3 linked regions of the Homo sapiens genome follow. The protein of the gene in region 3 interacts with the protein of the main gene of each other region in a biochemical or structural test. Each region holds a gene or a part of one and is shown on either strand. Other genes may lie near its edges.

What was found.
Region 1: the proteins of RAMP1 (region 3) and SLC31A2 form a complex in vitro, tested with the Homo sapiens proteins (one study listed by BioGRID).
Region 2: the proteins of RAMP1 (region 3) and DCLK3 form a complex in vitro, tested with the Homo sapiens proteins (one study listed by BioGRID).

What each region holds. Positions count from the first base shown.
Region 1 is NC_000009.12:113,160,410-113,165,411, forward strand, and holds the end of SLC31A2 (protein SLC31A2), read left to right. Parts: intron 1-596; exon of another isoform or gene 597-1,099; coding exon 1,100-1,289; exon of another isoform or gene 1,290-2,339; coding exon 2,340-2,508; 3' UTR 2,509-3,731; downstream 3,732-5,002. UniProt on the Homo sapiens protein: Does not function as a copper(1+) importer in vivo. However, in vitro functions as a low-affinity copper(1+) importer.
Region 2 is NC_000003.12:36,718,666-36,727,033, reverse strand, and holds part of DCLK3 (serine/threonine-protein kinase DCLK3), read left to right. Parts: intron 1-5,374; coding exon 5,375-5,507; intron 5,508-8,368.
Region 3 is NC_000002.12:237,862,049-237,870,416, forward strand, and holds part of RAMP1 (receptor activity-modifying protein 1 isoform 1 precursor), read left to right. Parts: intron 1-7,855; exon of another isoform or gene 7,856-7,934; intron 7,935-8,368. UniProt on the Homo sapiens protein: Accessory protein that interacts with and modulates the function of G-protein coupled receptors including calcitonin gene-related peptide type 1 receptor (CALCRL) and calcitonin receptor (CALCR). Required for the transport of CALCRL to the plasma membrane.

The sequences.
Region 1 (5,002 bases), on a different chromosome or scaffold from region 3:
TATTTTGATACCTATATACAATATGTAATGATCCAATCAGGGTGACTGGGGTGTTTATCACCTCAAACATTTATCTTTGTGTTGGGAACATTACAATTCTATTTTGAAATATACAATAAATTATGGTTAACTATAAATTTCCCTACTGTACTGTCGAATACAACAACTTATTCCTTCTATCTAAACTGCATTCTTTTGGGTTTCTATGGAGTCTTCATATGGAGGAATGATTGATGACCTCATTGGCCACTGGTGATCAATTCAACCTTCAGTCCCTGTCTCCTTCCAGAGGTAGGGAGTGGGGCTGAAAGTGCCAACCTCCAAGCACAAGTTTGGCTCCCCTGGCAACCAGCCCCCATCCAGGAGCCTCAGCCATCAGTCATCTCATTAGCATATAAAAAGACACCACTTGACAGCGTTTCCAAGGGTTCTAGAAGTCGTGTGCCAGGAAACCAGGGCAGAAACAGGATATATATCTCTTATTATGTCGCAGAGTCCAGTAAAATACTTTAGCTGGACCACTTATTATCCCTCTTAGTGAAACAAAAGTAGTAATTAACAGTTAATTTTACACAGCAGCTCTAATAAGCACTTGATAGTTTTGGTAAAATAATTTATTGGGTTTTTCCCCTATTATAAAAGTAATATATATAAAAGAAACCTTAGAAAGTTAGGCAAGAACATAAAAACCACCTGTATCCTACTTTGCTGAGATAACTATTACTCTTGTGCTATTTATCTTTCCTTCCAGACATTTTTTGCATACTTACATATAAATAGGACCTTGCAGTACTCATCACTTAACAAGAAGTCACGACAGATTTGTGCAGCCTGCTGGGGGAGTGGGTGGGGTAATGGTACGTGGCTTCTTCACCCTCAGCCCCTGGATTTTTCAGGTGGCTTCTCTTCCTGATCTCAAAGCCACACTCCAGCTAAGAAAAGTCTGGTGAAGACAGTGAAGAAGTTCGGAACTCAGCAAGGGTGGGGAAGAAGGTGCAGGATAGAGGTGGATGGAGTGGATTCCATGAACAGGTGGAGGTGCTGGAAGGGAAACAGTGCTGGCCTGGCCAGGTCTCCACAACTCTGCCTCCTTTGACAGGCATGGCCCTTTCGGTGTTGGTGCTCCTGCTTCTGGCTGTACTGTATGAAGGCATCAAGGTTGGCAAAGCCAAGCTGCTCAACCAGGTACTGGTGAACCTGCCAACCTCCATCAGCCAGCAGACCATCGCAGAGACAGACGGGGACTCTGCAGGCTCAGATTCATTCCCTGTTGGCAGAACCCACCACAGGTACAGGCAGTGGGTATGGGAAAGGGGCAGAAGCCTCACATTCACCCTGAGAGACAGGCTGGCCCAGACAGCATTAGCCCCACTTCACAGAGAGGACAGCGAGGCCCAGGGAAGGACCAGGACTTGCCAAAGTGGCTACACATAGCCAAGTGAACTAGAGCTCATGTCTCCTGATGCCCAGGCCAAAGCACTCTGTGAACAGCCAGCCACTTGAGAGGCTCAGAAGGCTTTCTTTAGGGAACAGTGATCTTCAGGTGCAGGCCCCTATCTAGCAAATGAGGTGGCCACCCACCCTCCCCCAAATCTCACCAGTTCCATGGGTCACTAGGCTCCCATATCCAGGAGGGGATCTGCAGCTGTCCTGAAGCAATGTATCCCACTTGGTGGGAGGAGGATGACAAGCTCTCCTCTCCTCCCTTCCCACTCGAATCAGGCAACCATTTAGGGTCCCTGTTCTGCCCTCTGTCCAGCCCCAGCCTCACCTGTGCTTAATAAGCCTGCCCGCTCCATCACTAGCCACCCTACATGGGTGTCTCAGATCTTCACAACTGCACTGCAAGGGAAGTATTCTCATTCCTGTTTTACTGATAAGGAATCTTACGTTCAGAGAGGTTAAGACATTTGTCTAGGCCACTTTTAGTTAGTGGCAGGTCTAGGAACTGATAATGTCACCTAAGACCATGCTTTTTCTTTCCATTGTCATACTGCCTCCCGAAGTAGATTCAGGGGGGAAATATGCCTTACTGATGATTTTCTCTTATTCCTTATCAGAAAGACAGATTATAGATACCCTCATTTTCCCCTTTGCCTAGGATGCCAGGAAGCTTGAAACCAAATGTAGTGAAGATATGTCTCTTTAAAAATAAATCTCGAGTTTTTTCTGGGGGCGGGGGTGGGAGGGGCAGAAAGAAATCACTCCTGGGTTAAGCATACAAGTTATAAATCAATCGGGTCACGTAACTCAACAGCTTTCTACTCCCTGATATCTACTCCCAGCTTCCTCATTACCAGCTCATTACCAGGATTAACTTGCTTCTCCTTTTTATCTAGGTGGTATTTGTGTCACTTTGGCCAGTCTCTAATCCATGTCATCCAGGTGGTCATCGGCTACTTCATCATGCTGGCCGTAATGTCCTACAACACCTGGATTTTCCTTGGTGTGGTCTTGGGCTCTGCTGTGGGCTACTACCTAGCTTACCCACTTCTCAGCACAGCTTAGCTGGTGAGGAACGTGCAGGCACTGAGGCTGGAGGGACATGGAGCCCCCTCTTCCAGACACTATACTTCCAACTGCCCTTTCTTCTGATGGCTATTCCTCCACCTTATTCCCAGCCCCTGGAAACTTTGAGCTGAAGCCAGCACTTGCTCCCTGGAGTTCGGAAGCCATTGCAGCAACCTTCCTTCTCAGCCAGCCTACGTAGGGCCCAGGCATGGTCTTGTGTCTTAAGACAGCTGCTGTGACCAAAGGGAGAATGGAGATAACAGGGGTGGCAGGGTTACTGAGCCCATGACAATGCTTCTCTGTGACTCAAACCAGGAATTTCCAAAGATTTCAAGCCAGGGAGAAGGGTTCTTGGTGATGCAGGGCATGGAACCTGGACACCCTCAGCTCTCCTGCTTTGTGCCTTATCTACAGGAGCATCGCCCATTGGACTTCCTGACCTCTTCTGTCTTTGAGGGACAGAGACCAAGCTAGATCCTTTTTCTCACCTTTCTGCCTTTGGAACACATGAAGATCATCTCGTCTATGGATCATGTTGACAAACTAAGTTTTTTTTATTTTTCCCATTGAACTCCTAGTTGGCAATTTTGCACATTCATACAAAAAAATTTTTAATGAAATGATTTCATTGATTCATGATGGATGGCAGAAACTGCTGAGACCTATTTCCCTTTCTTGGGGAGAGAATAAGTGACAGCTGATTAAAGGCAGAGACACAGGACTGCTTTCAGGCTCCTGGTTTATTCTCTGATAGACTGAGCTCCTTCCACCAGAAGGCACTGCCTGCAGGAAGAAGATGATCTGATGGCCGTGGGTGTCTGGGAAGCTCTTCGTGGCCTCAATGCCCTCCTTTATCCTCATCTTTCTTCTATGCAGAACAAAAAGCTGCATCTAATAATGTTCAATACTTAATATTCTCTATTTATTACTTACTGCTTACTCGTAATGATCTAGTGGGGAAACATGATTCATTCACTTAAAATACTGATTAAGCCATGGGCAGGTACTGACTGAAGATGCAATCCAACCAAAGCCATTACATTTTTTGAGTTAGATGGGACTCTCTGGATAGTTGAACCTCTTCACTTTATAAAAAAGGAAAGAGAGAAAATCACTGCTGTATACTAAATACCTCACAGATTAGATGAAAAGATGGTTGTAAGCTTTGGGAATTAAAAACAAACAAATACATTTTAGTAAATATATATTTTTAAATAGTCTATGACTGTTCTGTTCTCCTAATTCCAACAGAAAGCACATGAACCCTTGTAACAACTGCAGGGGCTGAGTGGGGCTAATAGAACTGGTAGTACTCTTTATAAGCCTGTCTGAGGACAGAGTCCATCCATCTGCTACAAAGACAACTCTGCTCAGGGAAACCCAGCCCTGAAATGCTGCACCCAGGTAGACACCCCAGAATGCCAACTGAGGCAAGTCAAGTCATTCTTCATTCATGTAACAAGTATTAATTGAGTACATGCTATAAGAAAAGTAACTGTCACACGGACTTTAAGCACCTGTGTTGGCACAATTACTCAGCATCTTCTCTCCCTGCGGGCAGAAGCAAATATAATAGCCACTAGTTAATTTACAATAAGAAATAACTGCCCTAGAAAGTAGACTATGTCACACCTTTAGGACTGATCAGGGCATTCCCCCATGTTTGCAGGGAACTGGAAAGCTGCCTGGTGTCTCAAGAAGCCTGTTTCTAAAAGCATCACCGCCCCTTCCCCCAACCAGTGACAGTCAGGCTGTGCTGGCCAAGAGCCCAGGCTCTGGAATCAGATGGCCAGGATTTGAATTCTTGTGCTGAGGCTTCCTAGATATGTAACTTTGGGCAAATTACTTTACCTCTCTAAGTCTCAGTTTTCTCCTCTATAAAATGGTGATAACACTGTCTTCTGCAGTGGTTGCTGGAGATAAGCCAGTCTGTGAAAGTGCCAAACAGCACCGCCTTTTGTTAAGCAACAAAGAAATAATTAGTTCTCACTGCCTCCCAGGTCCGCACACGGGAGACATATCCAAAGCCTGCAAGGATGATGCCAGGCCAGATGAAGTGGAATTTTGGGTCCTATCTTTTAAAACATTTAAAATCAAGAAACATTTTTTATTAAAATTAATTATTCTGTTTTTTTAAAGACTGATTGCATAATCTTTGGAAGATCCTGGAATCAAGAAAATGACCACAAGTATTTTCTCACTACTGTTCTCTGCATAAGTCCTGGTCCCATGAGTTCTAAGGGAATGGAAGCTGCTCTCAAAGTGAAGAATCCCTCAGGTGCCATGAACAATGGAAAGAAGGGACCCTCTCACCTTCTTTGCATGGCTTCCTAGACTGCAGGACTAAGCCTGCAGGAGCAAGAGGATGACTGGACTGGTCCTCACAGAACCATCATGCCCCAGGGATGAGCTAGGACTACAGTGGTGACTTTCTTTGAAAGCCTAAAAGTTCCAGGGTTAGGTATCAAAGGGAGTAAATATGCCACAACGT
Region 2 (8,368 bases), on a different chromosome or scaffold from region 3:
TGGGATTACATGAGCCACTGTGCCTGGCCAGTCAGCCAAATGCTTTTATGCCACTAATTTATAAATATTTGTGAGAGACATATTTTTCCAGCAGTCACCCAGCAACTACGATTAATGTATATGATCCATCTGGTCATTTTGGTATCACATTATTTTGTTTTCCTTCCCTTCCAAACAAGGTTTTCTTAAATTATTCTGGTAATTACCCTGTTGTCTCCTTTTGGGCTATGTCAGTTTCTATATGCAGACTGAGCAGAATTTCATTTTAGTTCTAAATTTATGACTTTCCATTTGGTGAGGTTAATTATGGAGACATTGATTAGATTGTCTGGTGGTGACTGGGGCTCAGCAATTAAGACACATGCTGCTTATGGAGATGTAAGCTCACTGGCAGAAACCAAAGCAAGTGGGGAGAATTTATTCTGGTCTGGAGAGACAGGGGAAAGGCCGCTCCACCCTGCCATTCTAGGTGTTGCCCATGGCTGTGATGGGTCCCAGGGAGAGGCAGAGTTCCTCTACTGCCCACCTGTCCAGGCACTGGTAGGAGCATTGAGAGCCTTTGCCCCAGTTCCAGGAGAGATGTGAGGGTGTATGCCTGCAGACAAGTTGATAATTTCTCCTACAGCTGTGGTGGCACTAATGAGTCTCCTGCTTGGATAAGATTGCCCAAATTTATTCTAGTAAGTTTTCACACAGTGGTCTAATTAACTGCTTAGTTCACCTTTGGTCTGAGCAATCAGCTTCTACCATGAGAAACAGGGCCTTACGTGTGTGGGTACAAGCTAGTTTGGAAGGAGGCTGGAGTATTGACTTGTGTCTGATTATTTAACCTTCCCTCAAACTGGAAAACTTATTTAATGGCAGGCGGCACCGATGCATCTTTTACTTGCTGCAAGATATGCTGGGTTTGCGCCCTCATGGTTTGGTTTTTCATGTGAAATTTAGTTTTATTTTTTCTAGCATAGTGACCTAAATACTTGCCACACTTACCTCTTGTGATTAGTTTCTTTTAGGTTAAGATCCAACAGTCATAATCTTGTATCAAATCCCTTGTTGGGGGAGGAGGACAGGACATACTAACTTGGCAATGGGATTTGGCTTACCAGAGATGAGAAAGCCAGTCACTTGGACTTGTTTGAAAGAGTGAGACAGGTGGGATAAGTTTTGAATGGGAAAAAGGAAGGAGCATTTGAGATTCTGTATTCATTCAGAGTGAAGGTGAGTGTGCCTTTTCTCTATTTTAAAAATTGACCAATTCTACCCTTTTCTAAAACCTGGTGGAGGTCCAAGGCAAACTGGGCCTTTTGGTCACTCTAGAGCTATTACTTTGCTAGGCAGATTACAGACATTGAATGAAACTTGTGACATAAGCCTATTTGCTGGAAACTGTCACTCCCATTCTCCCCTCTTTTATTTTGAGACAGGGTCTTACTCTGTTGCTCAGGATGGAGTGCAGTGGTGCAATCATGGCACACTGCAGCCTCGACTTCTCAGGCTCTAGTGATCCTCCTACCTCAGCCTCCCAAGTAGCTGGGACCACAGGCATGCACCACCATGCCTGGCTAATATTTTTACTATTTGTAGAGGTGGGGTCTCCTCGTGTTGCCCAGGCTGGTCTTGAACTCCTGGCCTCAAGTGATCCTTCCACCTTGGCCTCCCAAAGAGCTGGGATTACAGATGTAAGCCACTGCACCTGCCCCACCCCCCGTTTTTTTTTTTTTTGAGACGGAGTCTCGCTCTGTCGCCCAGGCTGGAGTGCAGTGGCGCGAGCTCAGCTCACTTCAAGCTCCGCCTCCTGGGTTCACGCTATTCTTCTGCCTCAGCCTTCAGAGTAGCTGGGACTACAGGCGCCCGCCATCAGGCTGGCTAATTTTTTGTATTTTTAGTAGAGATGGGTTTCACCGTGTTAGCCAGGATGGTCTTGATCTCCTGACCTCATGATCCGCCCGTCTTGGCCTCCCAAAGTGCTGGGATTACAGGCATGAGCCACCGAGCCCGGCCCATTTTTTTTTTTTTTTAACAAATGAGAAAACAGAGGCTCAGATGAGTAAAGAAATTTGTCCAAGACCATCCAGCCTCAAGTCTTGGAGTTGGAATTGTTCAAAGACTCCTGGCCTGTTTGATTCTTAATCCCCCACCCCTCCAAATGAGGGCCTGTATTTAACATCTCTCTCCTGCTTATTAGTTTACTTCCTCATTTTTCATAATTTTTAATTTTTGTGGGTATGTATTAGTCTGTTTTTATGCTGCTGATAAAGAGATACCTGAGACTGGGAAGAAAAAGAGGTTTAATAGACTTATGGTTCCACATGGCTGGGGAGGCCTTCCCACAATCATGGTGGAAGGCAAGGAGGAGCAAGTCATATCTTACATGGATGGCAGCAGGCAAATAGAGAGCTTGTGCAGGCAAACTCCCATTTTTGAAACTGTCAGATCTCGTGAGACTGATTCGCTATCATGAGAACAGCACAGGAAAGACCCGCCCCCATAATTCAATTACCTCCTACTGGGTTCCTCCCACAACATGTGGGAATTGTGGGAGTTACAATTCAAGATGAGATTTGGGTGGGGACACAGCCAAACCATATCATTCTGCCCTGGCCCCTCCCAAATCTCATGTCCTCACATTTCAAAACCAATCATGTCTTCTCAATAGTTCCCCAAAGTCTTAACTCATTTCAGCATTAACTTAAGAGTCCACAGTCCAAAGTCTCATCCAAGACAAGTAAAGTCCCTTCCTCCTGTGAGCCTGTAGAATCAAAAGCAAGTTAGTTACTTCCTAGATACAGTCGGGGTACAGGTGTTGGGTAAATACAGCCATTTCAACTGGGAGGAATTGGCCAAAACAAAGGGGCCACAGGCCCCATGAAAGTCTGAAATCTAGCGGGGCAGTCAAATCTTAAAGCTCCAAAATGATCTCTTTTGACTCCAGGTCTCACATCCAGGTCACGCTAATGCAAGAGGTGGGTTCCCATGGTCTTGGGCAGCTCCGCTCCTGTGGTTTTGCAGGGTACAGCCTCTCTCCTGGCTTCTTTCACAGGCTGGCATTGAAAGTCTGTGGCTTTTCTAGGTGCATGGTACAAGTTGTCATTGGTCTACCATTCTGAAGGCTGGAGGACAGTGGCCTTCTTCTCACAGCTCCATTAGGCAGTGCCCCAGTAGGGACTCTGTTTGGGGGATCCGACCCCACATTTCCCTTCTGCACTGCCCTAGCAGAGAGTCTCCATGAGAACCCCTCCCCTGCAGCAAACTTTTGCCTGGACATCCAGGCGTTTGCATACATCCTCTGAAATCTGGCAGAGGTTCCTAAACCCCAATTCTTGACTTCTGTGCAATGGCAGGCTCACTACCACTTGGAATTGACCAAGGCTTGCTTCCTCTGAAGCCACAACTCGAGCTCTACGTTTGCCCCTTTCAGCCATGGCTGGAGCGGCTGGGAGGCAGGGTACCAAGTCCCTAGGCTGCACACAGCATGGGGATCCTGGGCCCAGTCCACAAAACCACTTTTTCCTTGTAGGTCTCTACACCTGTGATAGGATGGGGTGCCATGAAGACCTCTGACATGCCCTGGAGACATTTTCCCCATTGTCTTGGGGATTAACATTTGGGTCCTCATTACTTAGGCAAATTTCTGCAGCCGGCTTTAATTTATCCTTGGAAAATGGGATTTTCTTTTCTATTGCATTGTCAGGCTGCAAATTTTCCAAACTTTTGTGCTCTGTTTCCCTTATAAAACTGAATGTCTTTAACAGCACCCAAGTCACCTCTTGAATGCTTTACTGCTTAGAAATTTCTTCCACCAGATATCCTAAATCATCTCTCTCAAGTTCAAAGTTCCATAAATCTCTAGGGCAGGGGCAAAATGCCACCAGTCTCTGCTAAAATGTAGCAAGAGTCACCTTTGTCCCAGTTCCCAACAAGTTCCTCATTTCCATCTGAGACCACCTCAGTCTGGACTTTATTGTCCATATCACTATCAGCATTTTGGGCAAAGCCATTCAACAAGTCTCTAGGAAGTTACAAACTTTCCCACATTTTTCTGTCTTCTTCTGAGCCCTCCAAACTGTACCAGTCTCTGCCTGTTACCAAGTTCCAAAGTCACTTCCACATTTTTGGGTATCTTTCCAGCAGTGCCCCACTCTACTGGTACCAGTTTACTGTATTAGTCCATTTTCATGCTGCTGATAAAGACATACCTGAGACCAGGAAAAAAAGGAGTTTAATGGACTATGGTTCCACATGGCTGGGGAGGCCTTCCCACAATTATGGTGGAAGGCAAGGAGGAGCAAGTCACATCTTACATGGATGGCATCAGGCAAAGAGAGAGCTTGTGCAGGCAAACTCCCATTTTTAAAACTGTCAGATCTCATGAGATTGATTCACTATCATGAGAACAGCATGGGAAAGACCCACTCCCATGATTCAATTACTGCCCACCGGGTTCCCCTCACAACATGTGGGAATTGTGGGAGTTACAATTCAAGATGAGATTTGGGTAGGGACACAGCCAAACCATATCAGGGTACATACTAGGTGCATATATTTTTGGGGTACATGAGATGTTTTGATACAGGCATGCAATGCATAATCATTACATCATGGAGAATGGGGTATTCATCCCCTCAAGCATTTATCCTTGTGTGATTACTTTTGCACCAACCTAATACAAGCAATCCAATTATACCCTTTTAGTTATTTAAAAATGTACAATTGAATTATCATTGACTATAGTCACCCTGTTTTTCTATCAAATAATAGGTCATATTCATTCTTTCTAAGTATTCTTTTTGTACCAATTAACCGTCCCTATCTCCCCCTCACCCCTGCCCCATACTTCTTCATTTTAATTCCCAGTCTTTTTCCTTTCTTTTTTCCCTCTGCCCAGCCTCTGCATTGCCCAGAGGCATTTTCTAATGCTCATGAAAGCTAGTCTGTGCTCAAAGTATCCTTGATCCTTGTTCTAAGTCAATGCTGTCTAATAGCCCTTTCTGCAACAATGGAAGTGTGTCTATCTGTGTTTCCCAATATAGTAGCCACAAGCCACAAGTGGCTTTTGAGCACTTGAAATGTGCCTAATGCAGCTGAGAAGCTAAATTTTAAATTTAATTTTACTTAATAAACTTAAGTAGCCACTTGTGACAATATGGTGCTACCATATTGGACGGCCTAGTAAATCTAACTCATTGGTTCTTAAGTTGAAAATGTGAGCCCTTGTCATTGAGGTCAAGTTAGCTTTGTCAGTGTTGGGCTAAGCTGTAATCTCATATAGGTTTATGGTTTGCTTTTCTTGACCTTGCATGGCTGTTGTTTCATTAGTATCCCTTCTTTGTTCTAATCACAATTTTGGTGGTTTGGGGATTTTGGTTTCTTACAGGTTCAGCGAAATGAGGACAAATCTACTACCTTGAAATTGGCTGATTTTGGACTTGCAAAGCATGTGGTGAGACCTATATTTACTGTGTGTGGGACCCCAACTTACGTAGCTCCCGAAATTCTTTCTGAGAAAGGTAAGTGTTACACATCGATCTGTGGGACTCTAGTTCCCTTACTAACAAATGTTTCATTTGTCATATTTACTAGTTTTCAATATGGAATAAATCTCAGAGAACTGACACTTAGGCTTGGATTTGGACTTCAATGAAAATATTTGAAGTAGGCTTGACCAAAGCATGAGAGCTTTCTCCTCATTAGGGCTGCCCTTGTTACAGTCAATGGATCAGTGTGTGTGCATGTGTGTGTGTGTGTGTGTGTGTTTATTGTGTTTAGGCAGGACAGTGAGATGAAAGATGATGGAGAATTGGGTGGGGAACTCAAGCAAGCAAGGCTACTTGACCCAAGGCTATCTCTAATAGGAGAGAATTGAAGCAGTCCTTATGGTACTTGGTTTAAAAATTTCTTCACCAACCTTGCATTTAAAGGAAAAGGATCCCATTTTCCTCCATGAACTCTATGAATATTTATTACCTACTTGTATATTATGCAAGGATCCAATGAGCTGTTTTAGTGACAAACTTTCTAAAACATTTAAAAAGGAAATAATAGTTATGATATGGCTCTAAATATATGAATGACTATTTGACTACTGTGGCACTCCAGGAGAAACCAATTTACCCACCATTGGTAAGATGGGAAGACTCTCATTGGGTTGCAGGGTTGGTGACAGGGAGAAGGGATGGACGGATAGTTTCCCAGCAGCAGAAGCATCAGGATAATTAAGATGAGGAGATGGCCAGGGATGGTGGCTCATGCCTGTAATCCCAGCTCTTTGGGAGGCTGAGGCAGGTGGATCACCTGAGGTCAGGCATTTGAAACCATCCTGGCCAACATGGTGAAACCCTGTCTGTACTAAAACTACAAAAAAATTAGCTGGGCGTGGTGGCACATGCCTGTAATCTGAGCTACTCGGGAGGCTGAGGCAGGAGAATTGCTTGAACCGGGGAGGTGGAGTTTGCAGTGAGCCAAGATCGTGCCATTGCACTCCAGCCTGGGCAACAAGAGTGAAACTTCATCTCAAAAAAAAAAAAAAAAAGATGAGGAGATGACAACATGCATGAGGTCAGGTGTTAGAGACATGGAGAAGACTAGCCTCAATGGACCAGAGAGAAACACAATTGGTTGGTATATTAGTCAGGTTTTTCTGTTGCTATAGAAATAACGAAGGCTGGGTAATTTATAAAGAAAAGAGGTTTAGTTGGTTCAGGGTTCTGCAGGCTGTACAAGCATGGTGCCAGCCATCTGCTCTGCTTCTGATAAGGGCTTAAGAAGCTTACACTCATGGTGGAAGGTGACAGGGAACCGGCATGTTACATGGTGGGACTGGGAGCAAGAGAGAGAGAGGGAGGTCCCAGACTTCTAAACAACCAGATCCTAAGTGAACTACCTGAGTGAGAACTCACTTGTCACCAAGGGGATGGTACTAAACCATTCATGAAGGATCCACCCCCATGATCTAATCACTTCCCGCCAGGCCCCACCTCCAACATTGGGAATCACATTTCAACATGAGATTTGGAGGGGACAAATATCCAAACCGTATCAGTTGGGTAGGTTGAGCTTAAATTCTCCACAAATGGGAAGACTGGTTAGAGATGTTTAGACTTGGTGTGGCATCGATGAACTGGATAAGAGAAGAAAAGAAAGCAAATAGGCAACACAAACTCTTGGGAAAACCACATATTGGTGGTAGCACCAACTAAAACAGGGTGTTGGAAAGGATAGCTCTTTTGGGAGATAGGGGGATGGGCTGAGTTTAATTTTGAATACACTGACTTTGTAGCGATATCAGGATGGATAATGGAGTTGTCCACTTGGCAAGGAGGTGAAGCTGTGAGCTGAACATGTGGCTTTGAGACTCCTCAACACAGAGATGGTTGATAATGGGCTCCTTGGTGATGCCAGGAATGAGAGCCAAGGACAGATTCTTGAGGAGGCCAAGAGCTCAGGGATGAGAGAAGGAAGGAGGGATCAGCAGAGAAAAGGCTGAGCAGCCCAGAGAGGATCTGAAAAGTGCATTGTCACAGAGGCCAAGGGACATTTCTAGGATTGATGAGGTCCAGGAAAATCAATCCCTCTCAACAGTGAGATGGTTGAGAACTGAGAAAAGACCAAAAGAGGTCATTAGTGACTTATTCTTTTAATATTTTCCTGCAGATTTGTATTTTGACAAACTTACTCTGGGGCTTAATTATGAATATCTAACTTCTAAATTACAGTGGTCAAGTGTTTTCTTTTTCTAACTGTAAAAAGTTAGTTAGAAAGTGTTTGAAAATGTCTATATTGCTGTGATAAGTTTTGGGAGGACAATGTGTAATATGTATCAAAAACCTTTACTGTATATTGCTTTGTCTATTTCATTGCTGGAAGGTTATTTTAGGAATATAATCAGACATGTGCACAAATATTTAATAAATGCTCATCAGAAAATTCCTTACAGCTGTAAAAAAATTAGTAAAAACTTAAATTACAACATAGGGATTTATTATGTAAAGGGGATACTAATAGTTATTAGAAATCATTTTTGTAAAAAATATTTTTGGTATTTTTCATAGGAAATTCTTATGTTGGAAATGTCATTGTATAATATTCAGTAAATAAAATAGAGTATAGGTGCAATGTGATCCTATTTTTATTTAGAAAAGTAAATAAACATTTTATTTAGAAAAGTATACATGTCTCTATATAGGTGTGTGCGCGTGTGTGTGTGTGTTGTATACCAGTGTGTGCACACATGGGGATACAGCTAGTAAACATCAGTCTTTTAAAAATCATTTAAAAAGCCAGTAAATGATATTTTTTAAGTGAGAGAGAAGACAATGGATATATAGGAAGCAGAGATTGCTAGTGTAGACTGGGGCTTCTCTAACTACCT
Region 3 (8,368 bases):
GCTGGTGCTGTCACACATGAACTCAGTCACCTGTCCTAGGAAACGCATGCCTTCCTTGGCTGTCACGTGGGAGCCAGGGGTTTTTTTAATGGCTGCAACATTAATTGAAATGTATGACTTTATATAAATACAAGTAGAATTGGAATGACAGGGACATCACAGGAAATGCTATGTGACTGCTTCAGATTGCCATGCGGTTTTAAATCTGGACACAGTTCTCATGCCAAAGTCCAAATCTGAAGGATTCTTATTTGTTAATCAACTCAGTGTGTTTGTTTACCCTCTCTGTGTGTCTAGCTGCAGGAAGAAATTTCTGGATTTTTGTCTTCCTTCCACAGGCGCATGCCTGTCAGCGTGCTTATTACCAGTCCGAGGCCAGGGCTGTTGAGAAACATTTATATCCACAGTGCAAATGGTAGATTCAGCTCCGGGAAATGTTTTAGGTGGAATCTTTAGTTAAGGCTAGTTGGAAAAGTCTGTCCTGATTTTTTTCCCCAGAATGCGCCCATTTCATAGCTTCTAATCAGTTACAACTGGCGTCTGGCTGACTGTGTGATGCAGGTGCCATGTGTAGTGTGAATTCCAGCGGAAATGCTGAGCCCAGAGAGTGAAGCCCCTCGGGCTTGCCTGCCAGTGCCCCTGCCAGTGCCCCCACCCCCAACTCAGGCCTAGAACCCCTCTTTCCTGACGGTCTTTGTGGTATGGTGGGCTGGCCCTCAGTGGTCTCTGAGCCAGGCCTGGCCATCCAGATGGTCCCAGGGAGGAGACTGGCCGCAGGCTGGACAGTCAGTGTTCTGCTGGAACCACGGGGAAAAGCTGCGTCTTTCCTCCAGGCTGGATCTGAGTGGGGCTGCCACAGTCTACCCTGTGAGCCATGGGGGAGTACCTGTCCATGACATAGAGCACTCCTGAAGCCTTTTGAGCCCCTAGATCGAGCTCATGGGGTACACATTTCCATCATGTGACCCATAACGTTTGAGATGGGTGTCTGTCCCTTGCAGGGACGGCAGGCTCAGGGGGCTCCGAGAATGGCGTACCTGGGGGACTGTGGGAATCCTGCCCAAGAGCCTCCTCCTCCACTGGGGACCCAGGGAGGCCTCCTGAAAGAAGAGGTGCTGCAGCCAGGAAGACAGTGGGAGCTGGGAAGGGGACAGGGGAGCCCGGGCTACAGTGGCCCTGGTGGCTCCAGCACTTGCTGGACCATGTGCCCACTGCCCCAGCCCACCAGTTTCTTGGTGGCAAATGAAGAGGCAGAGACGGTGCTGCCAGGGCACTGTTCAGTTCCCAGCCTGCCATACCCCCTGCCTACCTCTGACACATCCCACAGCAGACATATGAAGCCCTGGAGGGATGTCCTTGTCCCCAGTCCTCTCTGCTCCAGAACAGGAGGACTCTCAGCTGGGTGATGTTCCTGGAGGACCTGTTTCTCCTTAGTGAGGAGGATGCGTCAACACGGCCACCATAGGAGGGCTCCCAGCCCAAACAAAATCGTACTCACTTCACCGAATGATGTTATTCTGTTCAGGAAAAATATTTTTTTCCTAAGATGGTTTATTTCAGTAATTTCTGGGGCATCCGAAAGGCATCACTTTAACCATCTTTTAAATCACGGCTTCTGGGTGGCTTTGTTGGAGCAGGGTCCAGGGGGACACACTAGCCAGATGTGGCAGGAGTGCAGGGCTATGGGCCTGAGTCACAGGCCCCCCGACTCTACGTTCTCAGCTCTCTCGGTGACTCCTCCCCGTGCTCCGAGAGTGCTTCACTCCCTCCCATGTGCAGTCACATGGTGGATTCTCTGGGACCGAGAACCAGAATCCCAAAACCCCAGGCCCCGGCTGTCCACTGTGCCCTCCGCCAGGGTCAGCACCACCTCCACCCCTCACGGGGACAACTGCCCAGCCTCCCAGAACCCCCACCCCACCCACCACCCCAGGGACAGGGGGTCTTCCTCTGTGCCCCCAGCAGACCCTCAGGGTACGTTAGTGTCACCCCCACACATGCCATGTTCAGGCCCCCAGGCCTTGGCTCCGGGGAAGCAGCTCCTGAATTAGCTGAGAGTTCTGGGAAACCACGGGGGCAGGAGGGGAGGCAGAGTGACCTGGCCCGTGGCCTGGGCCAGCTCACTCCAGGGGGTGGGGTACAGCTTGCCCAGGAAGCCCTGCCCCCTGTTCTCCCGGACCACGTATCCCCACACGAGTCTCAGGAAGGACTGTCTTGAGTCTGACACCACCTGGGAGGAGAAAAGTCAGTGATTTGCCCAACCATGCGCGTGTTTGCTTCGTAAGGCCTGCCGCTGTCAGGTACCCTGGCCCCAGGCCGGGAGGGGAAGAAGCCTAGAAAGCATTGCCTCTTCAATGGACACTTGGTGACTGACACCCGGGGTGGCTCTCTCTGCAGGGATTTTCTTGCCTCTGGAGGAGACAGTTGTGAGAGGGAAGCGGGGGAGGTGGATGGATGAGGGAATGCCGGGAAAGCGCTGCACCGTTTCTCCTGGAAACACCCATCTGCCACCTCACACACGGGACACACAGGGTCAGGACTCTCACACACGTGGGACACCCAGGGTCAGGACTCGGAGGGGGCAAAGGACAGGGGTGCAGAGCAGCCTGCTACAGTAGGGTGTCCTACACAACCCAGGGCAGCTCCCCCAGAGGATGATCCCACACCAAATGTCCATAGTGCCAGGGTGGGGCAGCCCTGCTGCATGTCAACCATGTAGACATGTGGTGCTACTTAAATGCAGCAGGAAATAAACAGGAGACCACGGAGCACAGCCCTGAGGAGCAGCGGCAGCACAGTCCAGAGGGCAGAGGGCAAGGACGGTTGTGCAAAGGCCCTGCTTTGGAAGTTCCTGGAAGCCTTTTTGACTGAAGCATGGTGGGGAAGAGGGCTTTGAGCCGAAGCTGGTGCTGGAGGAAAGACCCATTCTCTAAGCATTCAGATCTCATTCCTAGGGCAGTGGGAAAACCTTGAAGGACATTAAAGGGGGTGACAGGACAGAAGGTGTGGTTTAAAGGAGCCCTCAGCTGTGGCCCCCAGCATGGGCAGGAGGCCAGGCAAGGATAGGAGTGGGAGGGTTCCAGGGAGTCCTGGAGGCGAAAGTGATGGACTCCAGTCCCTGGGCCTGGATGCAGGAAGTGAGGCAGCGCTGAGGAATGAAGAACAGCACCTGGCAGAGCTCCTGGGGGAGTAGGGAGGGCAGGGCAGGGGAGAAGAGAGGAGAGGAGGGGAGGGGAGAGCAGGGGAGAGGAGAGGAGGGGAGGGCAGGGGAGAAGAGAGGAGGGGAGGGGAGGGCAGGGGAGTAGAGAGGAGAGTGCAGGGGAGGGGAGATGACACCCCAGGCCACAGCCAGGGCTGCCAGGAAACATGGGAGCCCCAGGCAAACTGGAATTTCAGATAAACAAGAAGCATAAGCCTGTCTCATACAGTATCGGGAACATGCCTCAAAAACCACCGTTTCTCTGAGATGCAGATTTCGCAGGGCCTCCTGTCATTTGCTGCACCTGGCAGCCCCGTCCTCAGCAGCCACATGGGGTTCAGCGTTCCCCTTGGATTCTGAGGGGTGATGGTACGTAGACAGGAGTCTATGCAAATCAAGGGTTCAGAAAGAGGTATGGCCAAGAGAGGTGTTTCTGGCGGCAGCAGGGCCTGGCCTATGTCAAATCCTTGCTTGGAGGGGTGACCGGTGAGAGTGGGTAGAAACAGGCCCAGGCTCCTTGTGAGAGGCCAGAGAGGACGGCCAGGGAGGACAGAGAAGGAAACGGGCCCCAGGCACCACTGGGCACCTTGACATGATTGGTGGTGGAGGGAGGCAGATGGCAGGGTCCTTTGCAGGAGAGGCAGCGGCGAAAGCTGCCCTTAGGAGGCAGCGAGGAGGTGAAACCAGAGAGCATGCCTGTGTAGGTTTCCTCCAGTGCCTTATGGTTCTAAACACACAAACCTTTGATGCATCTGGAATTTACCTTAATTTCCTAGCAATTTTTATCAATGGCTCAATATTTGGGGGATTTTCATGGTAATTGCACTGAATGTATTAACTGGTCAGGGAGGATTACATCAAGACCACCGGCTCGAGAAACAGCAGTCTGTTCCTCCACCCCCACGTCTGCATCCAGGCCCTTCCACAGAGATCTCATTTCTCCTGCAGATGACTCATTCAGTGTCTAGGAATCCGGTGCTCTGTGGCCACTACCGAGAGTGGGATATTTTCCCCCATTTTATTTTCTAGCTGGTCATCGCTGGGCTAAGAGGAAGCTCCTCTTCTGTGTGTTTCTTTTGTGACTGTTGTCACCCTGTGCCTGTTTTTTATTTTAGTTTTTTTGCTTCCTGCTTGGTTCTTCAGGCCAGTCATAAGGTCACCCGTAACCTAGGGTGGTCCTACCACCTCTTAACAATTTTCCCTGTTTTGTTCTCCAGTCGTACTGTGTTGGAGAGTGACTCACTGCTGAGTAGGGGAGTGACAGCAGCTGCCTTCCTTTGCTGCTGGCGATGGCAATACAAGTGACCCTTGAACAACGCAGGGGTGGGGCGCCGAACCCCCACATGGTCAGAAATTCGAGTGTAGCTCTTGACTCCCCCAAAGCTTAACGACAGCCTACTATTGAGCAGAGGCCTTACTGATAACATTATCTGTGAGTTAACCCATATTTTGTATGTTACATGTATGTATACTGTATTCTTTTTTTTTTTTCTTTTTTTGAGACTGAGTCTCCCTCTTTTGCCCAGGCTGTAGTACAGTGGTGCGATCTTGGCTCACCACAACCTCCAACTCCCGGGTTCAAGTGTTTCTCCTGCCTCAGCCTCCCCAGTAGCTCAGATTATAGGTGCCCGCTACCATGCCCGGCAAATTTTTGTATTTTTGGTAGAGACGGGGTTTCACTATCTTGGCCAGGCTGGTCTCAAACTCCCAACCTCAAGTGATCCATGCATCTTGGCTTCCCGAAGTGCTGGGATTACAGGCGTGAGCCACTGTGCCCAGCCTATACTGTATTCTTATAATGAAGTAAGCTAGAGAAAAGAAAGTGTTATTAAGAAAATTAGACCCAGCATGGTATCTCACGCCTGTAATCCTTGCATTTTGGGAGGCCAAGGTGGGAGGATCGCTTGAGTCCAGGGGGTGGAGGTTGCAATGAACCAAGATCACACCACTGCAATCCAGCGTGGGCAATAGAGTGAGATCCCATCTCAAAAAAACCCACAGAAAATATATATACTTTTCATTAAGTGTAAGTGGATCATCCTAAGGTCTTCATGTTGAGGAGGCCAAGAAGGAGGAGCAAGAGGAGGGGTTGGTCTTGCTGTCTCAGTGGCGGCAGCGGCAGAAGAAAAGCTTCATGTAGGTGATCCACACAGTTCAGAGCCATGTGGTCAAGAGTTAACACCTTAAACCTTCTGTCTTTCTCCTTTGGGGCCAGATGCTTTTTTATTGTATTTTTGTGGGGGTGGGGGTGGGAGAGGGATGGAGAATGCATCTTCTTCCCGTGTGTAAAGTAAGCTTTTGTCCTGTGAAGGAAGAACCGTTCGATGTGACACAACAACCTGCCCAGCTGGACATTGTCTCAGTGCTGGCAGGCCGCTGGCACTGGCGAGGCTGTGACACAGGAGAAGTGGTCAGAGGCTGCGAACCTACCGTGTTTCTGGGATGAATGGAGCGTTTCCTCATTCCTGTGCAGCCTTTCGGCAGTCTCAGGTGTCTGTTGGCCACTGTTTGTTCTGAGTGTGGCTTCGTTCTTCCTGAGTGAGCTTGCTCTGTACTTTACCTTGGGAGTTTTATTACCAGCATTGGGTTTTCTTCCCAAGATACAGGTTGTGGACCCTTATTCTTTCCCTGTGTGCTAGGATAGTCAGGATGATGGAAATAAGCAGTTCCTTGAAGATCTAGAGGGTCTTCATTTTCACCTGCAAAACCACCGGGGCCAGGCTCCTTTTCATGGTGTAGAAAATTGGCAACCTTTTCAGTATCTTTCTGGTGTTAATTGGTCCCCTTGGGTTTTCTGTCTTTTTTTTTTTTTTTTGGATGGAGTCTTGCTCTGTCGCCCAGGCTGGAGTGCAGTGGAGCGATGTCAGCTCACTGCAACCTCCACCTCCCAAGTTCAAGTGATTCTCCTGCCTCAGTCTCTCAGGTAGCTGGGATTACTGGTGCCTGCCACCATGTCCAGCTAATTTTTGTATTTTTAGTAGAGATAGGGTTTCACCATGTTGGCCAGGCTGCTCTCGAACTCCTGGCCTTCGGTGATCCACCCACCTCAGCCTCTCAAAGTGCTGGGATTACAGGCATGAGCCACTGTGCCTGGCTGGGGTTTTCTGTGTCTTGTAGCAGTGATGTTGTTTTACATTTTCCTCTGAAGTTGTTCATTTTATCCACATATCATTATGTGAACAATTATTTTTCTAATTCCCTCTACATCTGTGAACATCTGTCCTTTTTAGTGCAATTTTGTGAATTTGTATTTTCATGTTATTTCTTGATCAGAATGGACAGTGGTTAATCTGTGATTGGTCTCTTCCCCACTGATTCCCTCCCCCCACCAAAAAAAAAAAACAAAAAAAAAAAAACAGTTCCTGAGTTTACTTACTCTACACTTTTTCTTGAATGCCTAACGCATTTCTTTTTGTTCTTTGCTGGCGTGGGAATGAAACGTCATCGGTTCTCTGCTTGGCAGCTTGGCTGGATCCCCTGAGTTTGCCTCTGCCTTGTGCTCATGGTTGATATTTTCTGGATTCTCTGTATTTGTGGTTTCTGTTTCCTCTTTAGCACGTGAATTGTTTGGAAGCAAGTTTTTACAAATCTCAGGGGCTCCGGCTTTTTGGTTTCTCTCCCGATACTCATTGCTAGTTTTATTGCACTGTGGTCGGGGGCAGAGCGGGAACCACAACCATGACTTAGTGTGCATTGCGGGTTCTTTCTTGGTCTTACAAATTTTTCGTGTTGTAAATGGCCCGTAAGCCCGTGGGAGGAGTGTGGCGTTTTTATGTATCCATCCCGGTCATCATATTAAATTTAATACTTAGGGCCTCCGTATCCCTATTTTCATCTTCTCCATCCATGCGCATTGTGTGAAAACCCTGCACTGCGTTTGTGATCCTGCCTGCTTTCCCTGGGCACGTGTTGCTGCGTGTTCACGCAGGGGAGAGGATGGGGAATTCCATATGTGACCCTGCCAGTCACAGCTGCATGGTGACTTCTTATAGCTCTGTCCCAGTCATTGCTTTTTTAATTTTAATTGCGGTAAAGTATACACCACATAAAATGTACCATCTTACCTATTTTTAAGTGTACAGTTCTATGCCACTAAGCACACTCACGCTGCTGTACAACCATCGCCACTATCCATCCCTAGAAGTTTTTTCATTTTGCAAAACTGAAACTCTGTCCCAGTTAAACACTAACCCCCTGCTGATTTACCACCTCCCCCAGCCCCTGGGACCCACGATTCTACTTTCTGTCTCTGACTACTCTAGGAACCTGTATTAGTGGAATCATACAGCATTTGTGACTGGCTCATTTCACTTAAGGTTCTTCCATGTCGTAGTGTGAATCAGAATTTCCTTCCTTTTGAAGGCCAAATAATATTCCACTGTTATGGATAGACCACACTGTGTTTATCCATTCATCCATGGACACGTGGGTTGCTTCCACTTCTGGCTGTTGTGAATCAGGCTGCTGTGAACATGGGTGTTCAGATATCTCTGTGAGACCCTGCTTCCAGTTCCTTTGGGCATATACCCAGGGCATATACCCCGGATCATTAGGTGGTTCTGTGTTTAATGTTTTGAGGAGCCGCCACAGCGTTTCCGCAGTGGCTGTGGCATCGTGCGTTCCCACCAGCAGTGCACAAGGCTCTGGTTCTCAGGGGCCGTGTGAGGCCACCTCTGCCATGCTGCAGGCTCCCCAGCACGCAGTGGGGAACCCAACCTTGGAGAGCCGAGCCGGGGAAGAAAAAGCGTCTCCACAGCCTTGGCAACACTTGTGATTTTGTTTTCGATGGTAGCCGTTCTAACGGGATTGAGGAGCCATTCGTTACTTCACAGGTGGACAGCAGCAGCTTTGTCGGGGACAACATTGTGGTTTCTCGTTGTCTAGTCTTTTGTCTGTGTCATGTCCCGCCACCCACCTTTTGGATGTTCCCCGGAGTCACTTAGCTCTTTGACCTGGTTTAACATCTGGTTTTCTTGTGGATTTTAATGTTGTTTACCAAATCCCAGGGCCTGCCCCGAGGGCCTGGTGACCCTGGGCAGGCCATTTCCCGTCCTGTGCAACTCTGATCTGCAGGATGGGGTGGTGTGGGAGCACCCATGTCCCTGCCTGAGGACTCTCCAGGCCTCCGTGGGGGCGGTAGCAGGGCCTGGCCCATGCGGCGCGCTGGTG